Linked DNA regions of Homo sapiens: region 1 is linked to region 2. The links come from fine-mapping of genetic effects on gene expression. Tissue or cell type: whole blood. Region 2 holds a variant in brackets; the other region holds the start of a gene. All regions are shown on one strand. Distances are from middle to middle. Region 1 holds the start of ACTR3-AS1 (ACTR3 antisense RNA 1). Region 2 overlaps ACTR3 (actin related protein 3).

Region 1 (8,338 bases), 38 kb before region 2:
AGTCCTGTGATTCATTCATGAAGACAGTGTCCTCCTGGCCTAATCACCTCTTAAAGCTCCCACCTCTCAGCACTGTTGCACTGGAAATTATATTTCTCACACATGAACTTTGGGGAACACATTCAAACCATTACAGTTACCAAAGATAAAAATGCAGATTTCAGATTTCTCTTGGGGAAGAAAAAAGGCTCTGGCAATACCAGGGCTGTATTTCCACATGGCAACAGTTGTCTGTTGCCTTCTGTTGGGTTGTGGGCTCTCACATTGCCATACCCTCCTCATGGCCCCCTTCACTCATAACAGTACCTGCCTAGACCTCGAAGCACTAGTTTCCAACCCTGCTTGAGTTAACTACTTCCATGACAACTGTGCAAGGCCAGAGTGTGGGCAGCTACCTTGAGGGCCACCGGCATGGGCTGCCCAAGTGACCGAGGGCACTAACCTCTGCTCTCGAAACTTCTTTGGTAGGATCTCTTCACTCCTGACTTACTACTTGTAACTGCTGGAAACAACCATTTATTCTACCCCTACTAAACCACATCTGTCTTTTCTGTCAGAGCCAATCTTCAAGCATATGCTTCCTCAAAAGACTTTAATTACCAGGTAGTAGAAGCGGCAGCAAAGAGTCCCCATCTAGCATCTTCTAAAATGTAGTGGAGAAACCAACGACAACGAATCTGAGACAACCAGTTGTTTGACTTCTCTGAAAACAACCTCTAAAAAAAGCCTTCTCTCGTGAATAGCTGCAGACATGCTGGGCACTAATTGATGATGATGCCCTTTAGTGAGTCTCCTCTGCACATACCTGATTCCATTTGGATGCTGGCCCTCACATACTTCTATCTGCGAACTCCGGAACACAGAATATCATACAATGTATGATTCAATCTGGACTCTGCTGGAGCCATTCTCTACAAAGCAGACACAACTTTTTCTTGCCTAAATCCTTTCAAGTTGCTTTATTTTTATTTTTAAACTAATTACCATAAATCTAATTTATCAAGCTGCTTTTAAGATAAACTTTAAAATGCTTAGAGCAGTCTACAAATTCTTGCACTGTTTCACTCTTCCTTATCTCTCAGTCTTCATCTCCCATTGCATCTTCTCTGACTCTTTCATATGGATCTTCTTTCAATTTGTGGAAGAAGCCAAGCTTGTTCCTGCCTCAGGTCCTTGACACTTGCTGTTCACTCTCCTGGGAGACTCTTCCCCCCATCTTAGCTTTTAAATACCAGCTGGTCAGACTCCTTACCTGCCTTCCACCTTCCTCTCATTCTCCCACTCCTCGCCTTCATTTCTCAGAGTCCTCCGCTCTCTTCTTTCTATTGCTCTTAACACAATTTGTCTGTTTTCCGCTAATCTGTAAACTCTACAAGAGCACTTAACTATTTTGCATCCCACCGAATATTCGGAGTCAGCACAGACCCCGTCATAATAGAGTAGGTAAGCAATGCTTACCTGTCAAATGAATGAATGAAACACCCGATTCATCCCCCAAGCCAGCTTAATACATTAGATGATCTTATGGACTGAATAAGACATCCCTCCTTTTAAAGAATATTTTTGTTTTAGCTTCACATCAGCAAACCCCGAACGGTTCATCCTAAGATAAGCCTGGTAGAGAGGAAAGATACTAACCTTCTAGGGTCCTAAAGTGGAACTAGGAACTTATTAGATATGCACATTCTCAGGCATTATTTCCGATAGCCCAGTCAGAGAATTCTGGGGGTATGGCCCAGCAATCTGTTTTAACAAACCTTTCAGGTAATTCTGATACACACTAAAGTTTGAAAGGTTTCTTTAAGGCTTTCCAGTTTTCTTTTCTTTTTTGGAGGGATGGGGGGGGGTCTCCCCATGTTGCCCAGGCTGGTCTCGAACTCCTAGCCTCAAGCTATCCTATCCTCCCACCTCGGCCTTCCAAAGCATTGAAATTACAGGCATGACCCACTGCGGCTCGCCTCCGTTTCTAACTTAAAAAAATTTTCTTTGGAGGGGAGCCTTAATCCTTTCTATTATCCTGCTAGTAGAATCTTACTACTCCTGAGGGTAATCTTTGTCATAATCCAAAAGCCTTGAATAAAGGCCTATTTGTATAGTTATGCAGAATATATTCCTGGGAGGTTTGCCTTCCTAGGAGCACAGGTCGGCCCTGGGAGGTGGGGGTTGGGGGGCAGGGCTGCATTCTAAAGTCCTGTAACAACGCACAAGTACAACTGAATAGAACTCGGAACAAAGGCATCAGGGCCACGGTGCAAGTCTTTGTTCATCCGTTCCCCGACTGCTCACCCTGTCTGATACCGCTCTTTTCCACCCAGAAAAGCAGCCACTCAAGTTTTAAGAATGGATGTATGCCGCGGACGTTTTCGATTAGGCCGTTTTCTCTCAGGCACTGGAGGATATTCGTGGCTGCAGGAGGCGCTTCCACCCTTTCCTCAACCTAGCAAAGAAGTAACTGAAACTAACCCAAGGGTTACAACCGAAAAGCCCCTTCCAGCTTCAGAAGCAGAACTGGAAGCTCGGATAGACTTCTCCGCCTCTACACTCCTGGAAAACCCGCAGTGGATTTCACCAACTTCAGGATCGGAGCCCAGGCAGGCGAACGTACCTTATTGCGCATGCTCGCTAGCCCCTCCCGCTCGGAGCGGAAGGGGGAGCGCTGGGGGCCTGGGCCTGGCCTGGCCGGGGCGTCGGCACCGGCGGCCATCTTGGCTTCCCGGGGAAAGGCGGCGTGAGGGGAAGAAGTTGTAGGGTGGGGGCAGGAGTGAGGAGGAGGGAAGAGAGAGGGGGAGGAGGCCGCGGCGGGGCAGGGCGGGGACTGCCTGCCTGCCTGGGTTGCGGAAGTGATAGCCGCCGACCGAGCCTGCTGCTTTCTTGCTACTGCTTCGGCTTCCCGGCTACCCCCCGGACGGTGAAGGCGGCCCAGCTGTGGATGGTCAGATAGCCCTTGTCTCCCGCCGCCAATCTCTGGCCCCTAGCAGCACGGAGCAGACGGCGGCAGCAGCAGCAGCAGGCGAGGAGGAAGATGGCGGGACGGCTGCCGGCCTGTGTGGTGGACTGTGGCACGGGGTAAGGGGGCTTACGGGCGGGGGTGGGGAAACTGAGGCGGAGGAAGGAAGATGGCGGGGGAGGGAGGAGGCCGGGAAATGAATGGTGCGGCGAGGTGCCGCCGCCGGCTGTCAGTCCTAGACCCGCCGGCCAGCGAGGGGTGGGGCCCGCAGCCAGGGCCTCGCGGGTCCCCTCGTTTCTCCCTCCTGGGACTGGGGCGGGGGCGCGGGCCCGAGATTCAACCCCCAACCCTCCCAGCGGCTTTCTCCGCGCGACCCCTCCCGGCCCTTCCCCCACTACGGTGGGCAGCGCCGCCCAAAGGGCGCTGGGGACGGTCGTCTTGGGGGTGGTCCCCGGGCCCGACCCATCCGGCTTTCCTTTCCCTCCGCGCCCGTTTTTGCCAGTCGGTTTGGGGACCCAGGGGCCGAGCTCGGGGACTGGCCTGGCAGGGGAGCTAGAAAAGAGAAGCGCTCCTGGTAGGTTTGACAAGATCGCTGTGACAACATTCTGCCCAGGGTGTGGGTGGGGAAAGGGAAGAATCGGACTCTGAAAATGGGAACCTACAGTGGGGCTTTCATTTGACCACCCACCTTCTCCTTTCGACTCCTGGTCATTTCCATCTCCCTCTGCGTTTTAACCGGTGAACCAAGTCACATTTTAATTCGAGGGAGAAAGATGTCATGTGTTACTTCTGTAGCCTCAAAAAAGTCCCCCAGTGAGCAAGCGCGCTGCAACTTCCTTAGTTTTGTCAAAGCCGCTTCCTGCTTTCAGTCTTTTATACCCTTATAAGGTAGTTTTTAGTTTCCAACCTGAGCACATCTTACTAGAACTTTTAAGCAGGTTTTAAAGAGACTGAATTACCGGTGCTTGGTGTCCATTTATATGACTTAAAAAAATGTACTTATGTTTCATGGAGTGGGGGAAAGGAAGCACCCTGGAAAATAAACTAATTTAAGTTGTATTCGTTCATTCTGTGATGGTATCTTGAAGGAAGCAGGAAGGTATAGAGGTATATAGGAGGGTGTTTAAGTTGCAAATAGTTACTCGTAGATATGTAGGGTAGTTTGCGAAAATGTAGAGTGGCTTTAAAGTGTGGTCGTTCATTTTGTATTAATAGACGTTTTAGAGAGTTGTACCACACTCATAACTGCATAGAGAATAGACTACCCTTATTTTTATGTAGAATCACTGCTTCAGGATGACATATAGGAAAGTGGTTTTTTTTTCTGTGCTGATGACATCTCTCCAATTCCCAGAACACTCCCAGTTTTTTTTTTTTGAGGGGGAAGTCAGTAAGAGGTGGACTGTCAGGCTTTTTTTTTTATTATTAATTATAATTATTGATTTCATTATTGTTACTTAAAAGATTGTGTGTCCTTCACTCTTTATGTGAAATTTCTTTAATCTTCATTCTCATAACTAGCTAGTGTGGCAGTTTCTAAAATCCCAGTTAGGTAGAGAGAAACCACCAACTTCTTAATATTCTCCTAGGAAAACACTAGCCTTGGAACTTCTATGTATTTTTTTGATGAACACTTTATTTAAAAGTTTTTCCTTAATTCAGTCTCATTTCTCTGAACCAATAATTTTTTTTATTTCTCCCTTCTTAGTCTAATTGGTGAGTATTTTTATGTCTAGGTTCAGTTTTAAAATTAGATTTGGCCTGAGTCAGTAGGATAGGACTTTTCAAATGTGTTTTGTTAAAGTGACGAATATTGCTACATAATTAATGCTTTAGAAATTACTGCGTTTTCAAAAAAATAGTGTAAATAATTGTGGCCCTGAGAAATAATATGGTAACATCTCAAGTAGTATGTTACTTTTCTAATCTCCATTTTCCCCCTTTTGAAATAGTTTCGAATTAGTATACAAGATGTTTCATTGAGATAAACTGTCCTTAAGTGACCTCCTTTCCTAAAGGGCAACCTTGAATTTAAAACATGCTGAATGACCAGTAGGATCGGGAAGAGGGGTTCAATTTAACCTAGGCTATTTCTGTTTTAAAATTACGATTATCACAATAGTGTATTTTTAAGTTATTACATTGGTTTCTCCAATAAGGAGAGGTTATTAACTGCACATTGATGATTTGAATGGAACTGATTAGGAGTCCCCTTGCCACCTCACTCTCTTTTACCATTTGTCACAATCTGAAATTCCCCCTTTAGAGTTTCAGTTATTTTGGTTCTCAAAAGCCTTTTTGGTCTTACAAGTTTCCAGTGGTGCCTCCTGGGAAGTTACACCTTCAGCTTTATTTGCACATGGAGGATAAGTCCTTGAGGTTGAGGACCCTGAGATAAACATCTCTAAGTATGGCCTTAACAGGGAGCTTTTACATTTCAAAATTCTGTGGTCCCCGAATGCAAATTGTGCACCTGTAATTTGTCTAATTTTTTTTATGCTTTAGAGAATGCATTCAGCTCTGAGGTCTCTAAATTACAATTACTCACTTAGTTTAAGTAAAAAGTTATAACCTGAATCAGGTTGCTCATTTCATTCATTATATAAATTAGGGGAAAGGTGGCTGAAAAAAAGTGGCCATCTGTAAAACTTGATCGTCTTAGATAGGAAAGCTGTTAAGAGTTAGGAAACTTGAAACTTAAGCCCAAAACTTTTAGGGATCGTCCAGCAAAACTCAACATATGAATCACCTAGATTCAGGTCATAAAAGAGAATACTTATTTTGAAAAGAATTTGAAAAGAAATGCTTCATTCACATTGATACCCTTATCTACACACTTTTTTGGTCTGTATTGGAAAGCATTGTAAAATACAGTTGGGGCACATAGATTCCCATTGGTGGCTTGAAAACTAAATAACAGAACTCAAACCTGCTATTAGTGGTGAGAAAAGCATTTTCTTTAAAAGGCATTCACAAACATTTTTTAAAAAAACATTGTAACACTTGTATGATCATCCTAAGGTTTTTTTTTTTCTGGGCGGTGGAAGGGATCGTTTTTTAAATGTGTTTTTTGCTTTTTGTTTTTTTGTTTGTTTGTTTGTTTGTTTTGAGATGGAGTCTTGCCCTGTCGCTGGGCTGGAGTGCAGTGGCACGATCTCGGCTCACTGCAACCTCCACCTCCCAGGTTCAAGCTATTCTCCTGCCTCAGCCTCCCGAGTAGCTGGGACTACAGGCACATGCCACCACACCCAGTTAATTTTTCTCTTTTTAGTAGAGATGGGGTTTCACCATGTTGACCAGGATGGTCTCCATCTCCTGACCTCGTGATCCACCCGCCTCAACCTCCCAAAGTGCTGGGATTACAGGTGTGAGCCACCGCGCCCAGCCTTAAAGGTTTTTTTTAAATGCATGTTTTTACTCAAGTTTCTCCATCATTCAAGCCAAATGAGGGCGCTCCTTATTAACTCCTTGTTATATCGTAGCTTGGTTACAGAGCTGCATTGTGAATTTCCTTTTCCCTTTTATGTCTTTTTTTTTCCCCTGGTAAATAAAATATTGGTAAATTAGTTCCACTGATTATGATAGCAGAGGTTAATATAGCCCTATGGTCAAAGTCTTGGATATATTCATATCTGGAGCAGATTAAGGAATTTTGCTAACTGACTTCAACTTCTTAGCAATCTTAAAATGTAAGCTTAAATATCTTGTAGGTGTCAGTGAAAGAGGAGTATGTTCATCTTGTGGCCACAATTCAGCAATTAGTGCAGATAAGAATGATCTTGTTTGAAGAGCAGTGGGGAAAAGCTGGGTAAATGAAGGAAGGTATATGTGGGAAGTTCATGTTTCTTCCATGAATTCTGTGCGTATTGTTTAATAATAATGCTGTTTCTTTTTTTTTTTTTGAGATGGAGTTTTGCTCTCATCGCCCAGGCTGGAGTGCAGTGGCATGATCTTGGCTCACTGCAACCTCCTTCTGCCTCCTGGGTTCAGGTGATTTTCTGCCTCAGCCTCCCAAGTAGCTGGGATTATAGGCGCCCACTACCACGCCCAGCTAAATTTTGTATTTTTAGTAGAGACAGAGTTTCACCATGTTGGCCAGGCTGTTGTTGAACTCCTGACCTCAGGTGATCCACCCACCTCATCCTCCCAGAGTGCTGGGATTACAGACATGAGCCACTGCACCGGCTTAATAATGCTATTTCTTTAGCCATCTCCAAAGGCAGAAATATTCACAATAGCTTCTTAACCAAAAAGCACTCATTGAAATTCTTATTCCTTGATGAGTCATGCTTTGCATGCTGTTTGAAGTAAGTACAACAGACATGCTCCTAGTGAGAAGTCAGACTCTTACTTAGACTTAGCGAAAGACTCTCCCTCCTTTCCTGCCTGCCAATTTTGTGTTGAAATATTGACTTTGGATTGCAAATACTATATTGCGGTGAACGAACTTTCAGGCTTATTGTAAAACACAGTTCAGAATTTTAGGCACAGAACGGAAAGGTCCTGTGGAGGACCTGCTGGCCATGCTTTCTGTGACAGCTATTTTTTAACCTAATTTTATAAGTGAAAAAACAGAATGAGAGAATTTAAATTACCTTTTTGATGCCGTCTACCTGGCAGGTGGTTCGATCTGCTATTTGGACCTGAGTTCTGTATTTAAGTCCTGTGTTCTTTCTGTTAACACTCCGGGGACTCCTGACTGCCTTTTCAGAACTTTATGTGTTGCTTCATTGTTGTTAGTAAAGTTAACTGTATTTCTGTTTAAAGAACTCTTACAAAAAAAAATCTCAGCCTTATGAATTTGATTCACCTAATTAGAGAAAACCCTCTGTGTAATCTTTACTTGGTTTAGGTTCCCCCCCCCCACCCCCCTGCCGATATGTGAATGCCTAGACTATTTCCTTGTTACTTTGCTTAAATTTAATCTCTAGAAAAAAATTACTCTCTAGGTTGTGTTTCTCAGGAAATAATAATAGCTAGCATTTATCGAGAATTGTATGTCAGCCCCTGTGCTAAATGCTTTATATTATCTCATTAACTTTCACAACAACCTGGAAAGTATTATCTTTGTTTTATAGGCTAGAAAATTTAGTCTTAAGAGAGGTTAAGCTACTTACCCAAGATACTGTAGCAAGTAAGTATGGCAGAGCCACTACACTAGATCTTCCTTCCGTAGAAGATGAACGTTTGACATGGCTTGGTGCATAGTAGGAATTCAAATCTTTGTTGTATGAATGAATGAACAAGAATTAGGAGTATGGTTTTTAAAAAAACTGTGCATCAGAAACACCCCATACCCAGTGACTCAGAATCTCAAGGGTTGGACTATGAATATTCATTTACATAGGCTTCCTAGATGATTCTTCAGCAGCCCATTCAAGGGCTAACTTT
Region 2 (8,338 bases):
AGTGATTCTCTTGTCTCAGCCTCCCGAGTAGCTGGGATTATAGGCATGCACCACCACGCCTGGCTAATTTTTGTATTTTTAGTGGAGACGGGGTTTCACCATGTTGGCCAGGCTGGTCTCAAACTCCTGACCTCAGGTGATCTGCCTGCCTTGGCCTCCCAAAGTGCTGGGATTACAGGCATGAGCCACCACGCCCAGTCGGAACTTTATTTTTTTTAAAAACCTGTAGTGTAATATTTGTTCGTATATATTTCTTTTGCTAGACTGAGTTTTTTGTATGCTGGATGTCTGTGTCCTTAGCATTTGTGCCAGTGGCTTACAGTAGGTACACAGTAATAATTGATGAATAAATAATACTTAAAACATTTGAATTTGTAAACTTCTAATAATGTTAAAAATTGAATGATAAAGTAAACTGCAATTTTTTCCTTCCTTAAAGCAAACTGGGGAGTAGAAGTCCTTTTATAAGTATAATGCCTTAAAAAGTAGTGTGGAAACTAGAGTAAGAAGTAGATGTTAGGGATTGATACTGCAAGGTATTTATTTCTTTGTTCATTAATTTGTTTAACTTTAGGTATTGAATGTGTATTATGTTCATGGAATTATATTCTGTTGCAGAGGTTCACAAACTTTCTCAGTGCCGTTAGGGTCTCAGTAACGTTTTTCACTGTGCCACCTAGATCGAAAGAAATGTCTGATAGTTCTGTTTATTAAATACCTAGGTCCAGGCAACTTAGTAGCCACTTGAAAAAAATAAGACACTTAAATTGGAAACGTTATTTCACTGCTGAGTAATCACATTTCTGTTAGGATGCTTAGGCATCGCTCAGCTTCTCAAACCTGGAATCAGATGGGACATTGCCACCCTGATTTCTTGTTTTATATCGATGTTATTTTATGTGATAACTTGGTTTTTATGCCAGCAACTGCTGACAAACCAACTTCTGTAAGAAATAATGTCATTGAAAGGAATATATAATAGTTTGATTTATTGTTGAAACTGAATTACTGTGACTTGTAGATCACGCAGTGTCCAACTGATGTTGAGTAACACTATATTTCCCTGGAAAATTTAAAATAACTTTGCGGCGCCCTTGTGAATTTATGGTAGTACACTGGGGTGCTGTCTCAGTTCATTTTCTGTTGCTATAATGAATACTTGAGACTGAGTAATTTATAAAGAAAAGAGGTTTATTTTGGCTTGTGGTTCTGGAGGTGAGGAAGTCCAAGATGAGTTGGCCACATCTGATCAACCTCTGGTAAGGACCTCATGCTGCTTCATAACATGTTGGGGAATGGAAGAGGAAAGGGACAAAATACAAGGGACAACTTCACTTTGTAACAGCCTGCCTTCAACCCTCTGGAGAATTAACTCAGTCCTGCTGAGAACTGCATTAATTCCTCTAATGACCTGATGACCTCTTAAAGGCCCTACCACCTCTCGATACTATAACACTGGGAATTAAATTTTAACATGAGTTTTGGTGGGAACACACCACATCCAAATCATAGTAGGTATCTTAGCACACAGTTTTGGAAGCATGACTCTTAAACATTTATAAAACTTTTCTTATAACATTTTATGTGCTTGATTCTTACAATTATTCTAGGTATGTACTTACAGGTGCACTTTTTATATTCGGCATACAACAAATACTTGTTAATGGCCTAATGCATTAAAAATTAAGGAAATTGTGATAAAGTATAGTTTTTTAGGCTTAATTTTTGTAGGCTAACTTATCCTTTTATTACAAAACTTTTAAAATCTAGAAAGACTAGTACAATGGTCTTCCATGTAGATTTAACAGTTTTTAACATTTTGACATATTCACTTTGTTTTTATTGAACCATCCATCTGACAATGCGTTATTGAACTAATTTATCTTTAAATCCTTAAGTACACATCTTTTAAGGATGTTCTATAGTATCACACCTATGAATATATCCTCATCTAATATCCACTAATGATCTGATATTTCCTTTTTTGTATTTTTATTTGTTTTTTATATTAATAAGATTTAATTTGTATTTCCCTTTTTGTTTTAATAGTGGCCAATCCGCCATGGTATAGTTGAAGATTGGGACTTAATGGAAAGGTTTATGGAGCAAGTGATCTTTAAATATTTAAGGGCAGAACCTGAAGACCATTATTTTCTTTTGGTAAGTTACAAGTTATAATTTCACTGAGGAAATTTTTGAATACACTTAATGAGAACATTTTCATCATACTTCTTTGGTATACTTTGGTTATTAAATTGTCATATGTCTAAATGACTTTGTAATAAAGCTGTATCATCTTTAAGACCATCTAGTTATGGCTACAGGAGAATAGTAGTATGTCAAAGCACCACATGTTAAACACTTAAGAAGTGCTTTTGGTAGTTAATGTCTAATCTTTATGATAGAAACAGTAAGTAATGTTCAGAAAAATGTTGGAAACCTGTGGCACTTTTTTGCTTAAAAAACAATAGTCTGATTATTATATCATTGGTATTTCTTCATAACAAAAATACAATATAATCTAACTTTTTATTAAACATCTTTTTATTAAAGCAGTGCATGTTCATAACTTAAAAAATCAAATGACTTTATAAGATTTAAAACAACAAAATAACACTTTCCTTTCTTACCTCTCCCAACCTTTGGTTCATATTCCCCGGAGGCAAACATTTTCAATTTTAACAAAGTTTGCCCTGCTAGTAATCTTTTAACATGTTTCTTTTATTTAACATTTTTTTTTTATTTCTTCTGTCTTTAAGAATATTATACATTATTTACCAACTTCCTAATAGGAAAAATGAGAATTTCCCTTTTTACCTTTTCTCTCCCTCAACACAAAATACCTATCCTTTCCCACTCCTCGCATTGTAGTTACATCACAATTTTTGGTTAAATCAATATTCTGTGTCTTTCGGTGATTGTGATGGACTATAAAGTTGAAAGAACCATACTATGGACACTCATACACCCACAATCTAGATTCGATGATTAACCTTAACATTTGGCTATAATTGCTTCATGACGTCTATCCATCTTTCACTTCATTTTAGTTTTTAAATCACTTCAAAGTGAGTTGCAAATGGGAGTCATTTGACCCCTAAATACTTTAGCACGTATTTCATCAACTAGAGCTATCATTTGTGTATGGTTATTCTTTTCATATAAAATTTACATATCATAAAATCACCGGTCTGCACCATTCAGTGGATTTTGACCAGGGTTTGGCAAACTTTCTAAGGGAGCAGATAGCAAATATTTTTGGCTTTGCAGGGGTTATAGTCCCTGAGGAAACTTAATGAGAACTTTTTATACAATGGTCCCTGTCACAGCTACTCAGCTGTGCTGTTGTAGCATGTTAGCAGCCATAGACAATACTTAAATTCATAGGTATGTCTGTGTTCCAATAAATTTTTTTTTTTTACCAAAACAGGTGGTGGGCTGTATTTGACCTGCAGGATGCATGATGTGATTTGTCCAATCTTTGTCAGTTACATACATCTGTGTAACCTAAACTCTTACCAAGATATAGAGAAATTACTATCAGCGTGGAAAGTTTTCTCATGCCCTTTTGTAATTAATCTCTGCCCCCGTGCCCTAGTGACAACCACTGTTTCTTTTTCATCTGAGATTAGCTTTGCCCATGTTTGAGTGTCAAATAATGGAATCATGCAATATGTGCATTTTGGTGAAACACTTTTACTTAGCATAATCTGGAGATTGAATTATGTTGCATATACTGGTGATTTGTTGCTTTTTGTTGCTGGGTAGTATTCCATTGTATAAATTTGCCTCACTTTATCCATTTTCCTGTTGATGAATACCTGGGCTATTTTT[G/GT]TTTTTTTTTTGTTTTTGTTTTTGTTTTTTTAAGACAGGGTTTTGCTCTGTTGCTCAGGCTGGAATGCAGTGGATCAATCATGGCTCATTGCAGTGTTGACCTCCCAGCTCAAACAGTTCTCCCAGCTCAGATTCCTGAGTAGCTAGGACACACAGGCCCGGGCCACCACACCTGGGTAATGTGTTCTGGTTTAGAGATGGAGTCTCACTTTGTCACCCAGGCTGGTCTTGAACTCCTGGGCTCCAAGTGATCCTCCCGCCATGGCCTCTCAAAGTGCTGCCACCATGCCTGGCTTAGTTCTAGTTTTTGGTTATAATAAAATAATTTGACCATTGTGAACCTTCTTCTACAAGACTTTTTGTGGACATATGTTTTCATTTCTCTTGTCTAAATACGTAAGTATGGAATTGCAGCGTCATAGGGTAGGTACCTGATTGGTTTTTTAGGGAAACTCATGGGAACTTTTCCCAAGATGGTGAACCTTTTTGCACACCCCCCAGTGATGCATTAGTAATCTGCTTGCTCTATTCAAGATTTGGCTTATCAATCTTTTATACTTTTTTTTTGAGACAGTCTTGCTCTGTCACCCAGGCTGGAGTGCAGTGGTGTGATCTTGGCTCACTGAAACCTCCCCGCCTCCCAGGTTTAAGGGATTCTTGTGCCTCAGCCTCCTGAGTAGCTGGGATTACAGGCATGCACCACCACACCTGGCTAACTTTTGTAATTTTAGTAGAGACAGGATTTTGCCATGTTGGCCAGGCTGGTCTTGAACTTCTAGTCTCAAGTAATCTGCCCACCTCGGCCTCCCAAAGTGCTGGGATTATAGATGTGAGCCACTGCGCTGCTAGCTTGTCAGTCTTTAAAATTTTAGCCGTTCTGGTGGGTGTGTACGATTTTTCATTTGCTTTTAATTTTAATTTTCATTTTCTGATAATTATGTTGAGCAGTCTTTCATGTACGATTGTTATTATTAGCTATTTGTATATTTTCCTTTGTGGGGTCCTCTGATTATCTTTTATGTAGATTTTTTTTCTTGGAGTTTATAATTTCACTGCCTTGGTTTTTAGTTTACTTAATTTTGTATGTATTCATCAGTAAATTATCTCCAGACTTTTAAACATAGCTCCAGAACTCTTCTAAAGAAGTTTAAACACCACAGGGAGTTTAGCTTATAAAGGTTTTATGTAAGGTAACAGTATACTTAGTTGTTTTGCTTTATATTTCTTTTGAAATAATAATTTTAAAAATATTTAATTTTTAATGGATTCAAGTTTTATCACTTTTTCCCTTTGTGATTTGTACTTCAGAAATTTAAGGAGTTATTCCTACCTTAAGGTCAAAAAGAGAATTCTGTGTCTTTTTTAAATTTAAAAATTTTTCTTTTACATTTAAGTATTTGAGATACCTATTAGATTGCCAGTCAGACTCACAAGAATCAGAGGTCTTACCCAGTGTTAATCTTTAAAAATTGAAACAGTTTAAGTGATCATGAGGCATAGGTGAAATATGAAGTCCAAGACTGCCAGATCTCTGAGTCCTTCCTTGCCTCTTTAGAGTGTGTTCTGTCCCAGACTTAACCTGTGAGGTTTCTAAGTGATGTATACAGTCACATAAACAGAAGAGTGCTCTGCAAACATCTTGATTCTATGCTCTTAACAGGTAAATTAATATAACATTTTTCAGAAAGCTGTACCATTAGATCTGTAGAATCTCGGCTTGTTTACTGTAATCCTATATACTTCGGGGACATTCATCTAAAAGCATTACTTAGATGAGGGCTCTCCCACTGGCAAATACCATTGATGTTTTTTCTGGAGGTTTGTCATTACCATATTTAAAGGATGATTTGACTGGACCACCTTTTCCCTACCTCCAACCCTCTCTCTCCCTGCTTCATTTCTTTTTAATGTTTAATCTGTATAAGTGGTATGATATAGGCATTCAGGGTATTTTTTTTTTAAAATGTGAATTACCATACTGTTTTCATATATGTATGGATGTTTGAATTCTCTATAGTTTTCCTTTGATCTCTGTGTCTGTCTTTCTACTTGTAAATTTAATGCATTTTAAATAAAATGTTTGAAATAAATTACTTCTCATTTAAAAATTGTCAAGAAAGTTATCAAAATAATCTGATATTATCTATTTAAAATGTTATTTATTTCAATAGACTGAACCTCCATTGAATACTCCAGAAAACAGGGAATATACTGCTGAAATAATGTTTGAGTCCTTCAATGTTCCAGGCTTGTACATTGCTGTGCAGGTAAGCAAGTTCATACTTTCTAAGTTTGATTCTTACATTTTAACCTAGTTTAATTTGCTGCCTAAAATACGTACTTTTTTTTTTTTTCTGCAAAGGTTTAAACATAATGTCAAAGCATGTTATACTTCTCTCCTGAATTGTTAATTTAGAAGTAATATTATGGGAAGTGGAGATATTTAGTCAGGAAAAGAGAAGTGTTAAAAAAGTAAGTTAGTGGTGTTTGGGTATTTCAAGGGCTTTCATAGGACAGAAATGAAGGAACTAATATTTATGGAATGCTTTCTCTGTGACAAGAACATTGTATATATATTTATCCTTGTAAATAATCCTTTATCATTTATCCTTATAAATCTTTTTGTCCTTTATTGTAGTCTTTTTTGATTGACTTATCTTTAGGTATATTTGACACCCTAATATTTCACTTCTCTTAATTTGTACGTTTATCTGTATGGAACAGCTTCTCTCCCACCCCTCAGGATCAGAGCTGACCTCATTTTTTTTTTTTTTCCCTTGTAGCAGAGGTAATCCCTGACATAACACAAATGCTTTATATGTGTATTAATTCATTATTTCTATTAAATGTAGATATTTTTGTTTCTGTTTTTTGTGGAGGAAGAAAACTAAAGCTGGAAGGCACTTTATTCATAATTAAATGGTTAGCTGTGATACCAGGCAGCTGAGGTCTGTCTGACTTTGCTCTTTCTTGGGATCACACTGGTTTTTGTAACTCCACGGTACACAGAATCAATAAGTGATAATTATGGATGAATATTTTAACTTGGATAGCAAAGAACTTTTTAATGTTTAATGCAATCCATAAATTTAATGAACTGCCTTTTAAATTCTCTGCTGCTAAAAATATTTAAGGAGTCACTTAAACCTGTCATGAACTTTATAGAAGAATTCAGTCTTGAGTGGGAGGCCCTTTTTTAGTTCTTAGAATATGAATAAAATGAGGAGTTGGGAAAATTCATCTTTCACTTGGGAGTTTTTGCTTCTCATCCTATGTTAAATATAATAAACTTATGTTTAACCATATTGTCAGGTAAAGCTTACTTTAAAACACTGGCATCATGAGCTTTGTTTCATTCCTCTGGAGTCGTAATTTGGTTTTTCAGTGATTTCCTTAGTGGCCTCTGAGTGCTCTTAATTTCATTATTTAATCTCTGTTCTGTTTTGTTGATGTTCAGTAGTCAATAACATTTCTGTAACATGATGTGCTGATACATATCTATTCTAGTTTGGGACCGTAACTGTTTACAAAAGACTTGTAAAAGTGATCAGAGATAATTCTTGGTTGTAGATGATAGTTTTGAACTTACTTATAGAGGAAGGATATCTCATAATGAAGTCTAAACAGTATATATATATATAACTAGTATTAGGATGGAATTTTTCATTTTAAGATTGTCAAAAAATAATGTATAGTTCTGTTAGCCTATAGTGATTATGTGGTGATTGTGTTAATATGATCTTGTGTTCAGATAGGAGGGTGACCTAGATAGCTTTCTAGGTCCCTTTTAGCTATTACAGTCCAGGTAGGTAAAATAAGTCCAGTATAAGTTTAGTTGTTTTTAATTACTAGTCATATACTTTGTTTGAGGCTTGGATTGTAAGAAATTTAGTTTTTTAAAAAATGAACTATGTTAATTTCTTAATTCTCACACTTAAAAAAGAATTGTGTTGTATTGTCTGTACCAAGGTTTTTCATAGAAAAATTTTATCAACGTTGCTCCATAATTAAATCATAGTAGTATTTGGAGGTGTGCGATGGCGTTTTCTGTATGTCATATAGTCCTAAACACATGTTACCTTAAAAAAATTTGAAGGTAGGCCTGGCACAGTGGCTCATGCCTATAATCCCAGCACTTTGGCAGGCTGAGGCAGGTGAATCACAAGGTCAGGAGTTCAAGATCAGCCTGGCTGAGATGGTGAAACCCCGTCTCTACTGAAAATACAAAAATTAGCCGGGTGTGGTGGTGGGCACCTGTAATCCCAGCTACTCCGGAGGCTGAGGCAGAGAATTGCTTGAACCCAAGAGGCGGAGATTGCGGTGAGCCGAGATCGTGCCACTGCATTCCAGCCTGGGTGACAGAAAGAAACTCTGTCTCAAAGAAAAAAAGAAAAAGAAGGTAATCTTTTAGTAATAGTTGTTTATAGCCATATATGTATTGAATAACTGGAGGTAGGGTGGTTGTGTACTTTCTGCCTTACATTGCAGTTTGTAACAGGCCAGC

The links.
Region 1: it holds the start of ACTR3-AS1, and the variant in region 2 is fine-mapped to the expression of ACTR3-AS1 in whole blood (INTERVAL, PIP above 0.99).

Annotation. Positions count from the first base shown.
Region 1 is chr2:113,887,258-113,895,595 of GRCh38, forward strand. It overlaps ACTR3-AS1 (ACTR3 antisense RNA 1), which reads right to left and starts at 3,735. Exons shown (of 5, transcript NR_110174.1): 1 at 3,636-3,735. ACTR3 (actin related protein 3) reads left to right here and starts at 2,832. Exons shown (of 12, transcript NM_005721.5): 1 at 2,832-3,066. The coding sequence starts at 3,023. LOC124906071 (a long non-coding RNA gene) reads right to left here and starts at 2,510. Exons shown (of 3, transcript XR_007087205.1): 1 at 806-2,510. RefSeq lists enhancers at 2,203-2,512, 2,633-2,722, 2,755-3,410, 3,493-3,542, 3,593-3,772 and silencers at 2,803-2,862, 3,103-3,362.
Region 2 is chr2:113,925,296-113,933,633 of GRCh38, forward strand. ACTR3 (actin related protein 3) reads left to right here. Exons shown (of 12, transcript NM_005721.5): 4 at 2,050-2,160; 5 at 6,006-6,101. Among named protein-coding and RNA genes, the nearest start is that of ACTR3-AS1, 38 kb to the left of the region's middle. The variant G/GT (reference allele first, on the strand shown) is at 3,835.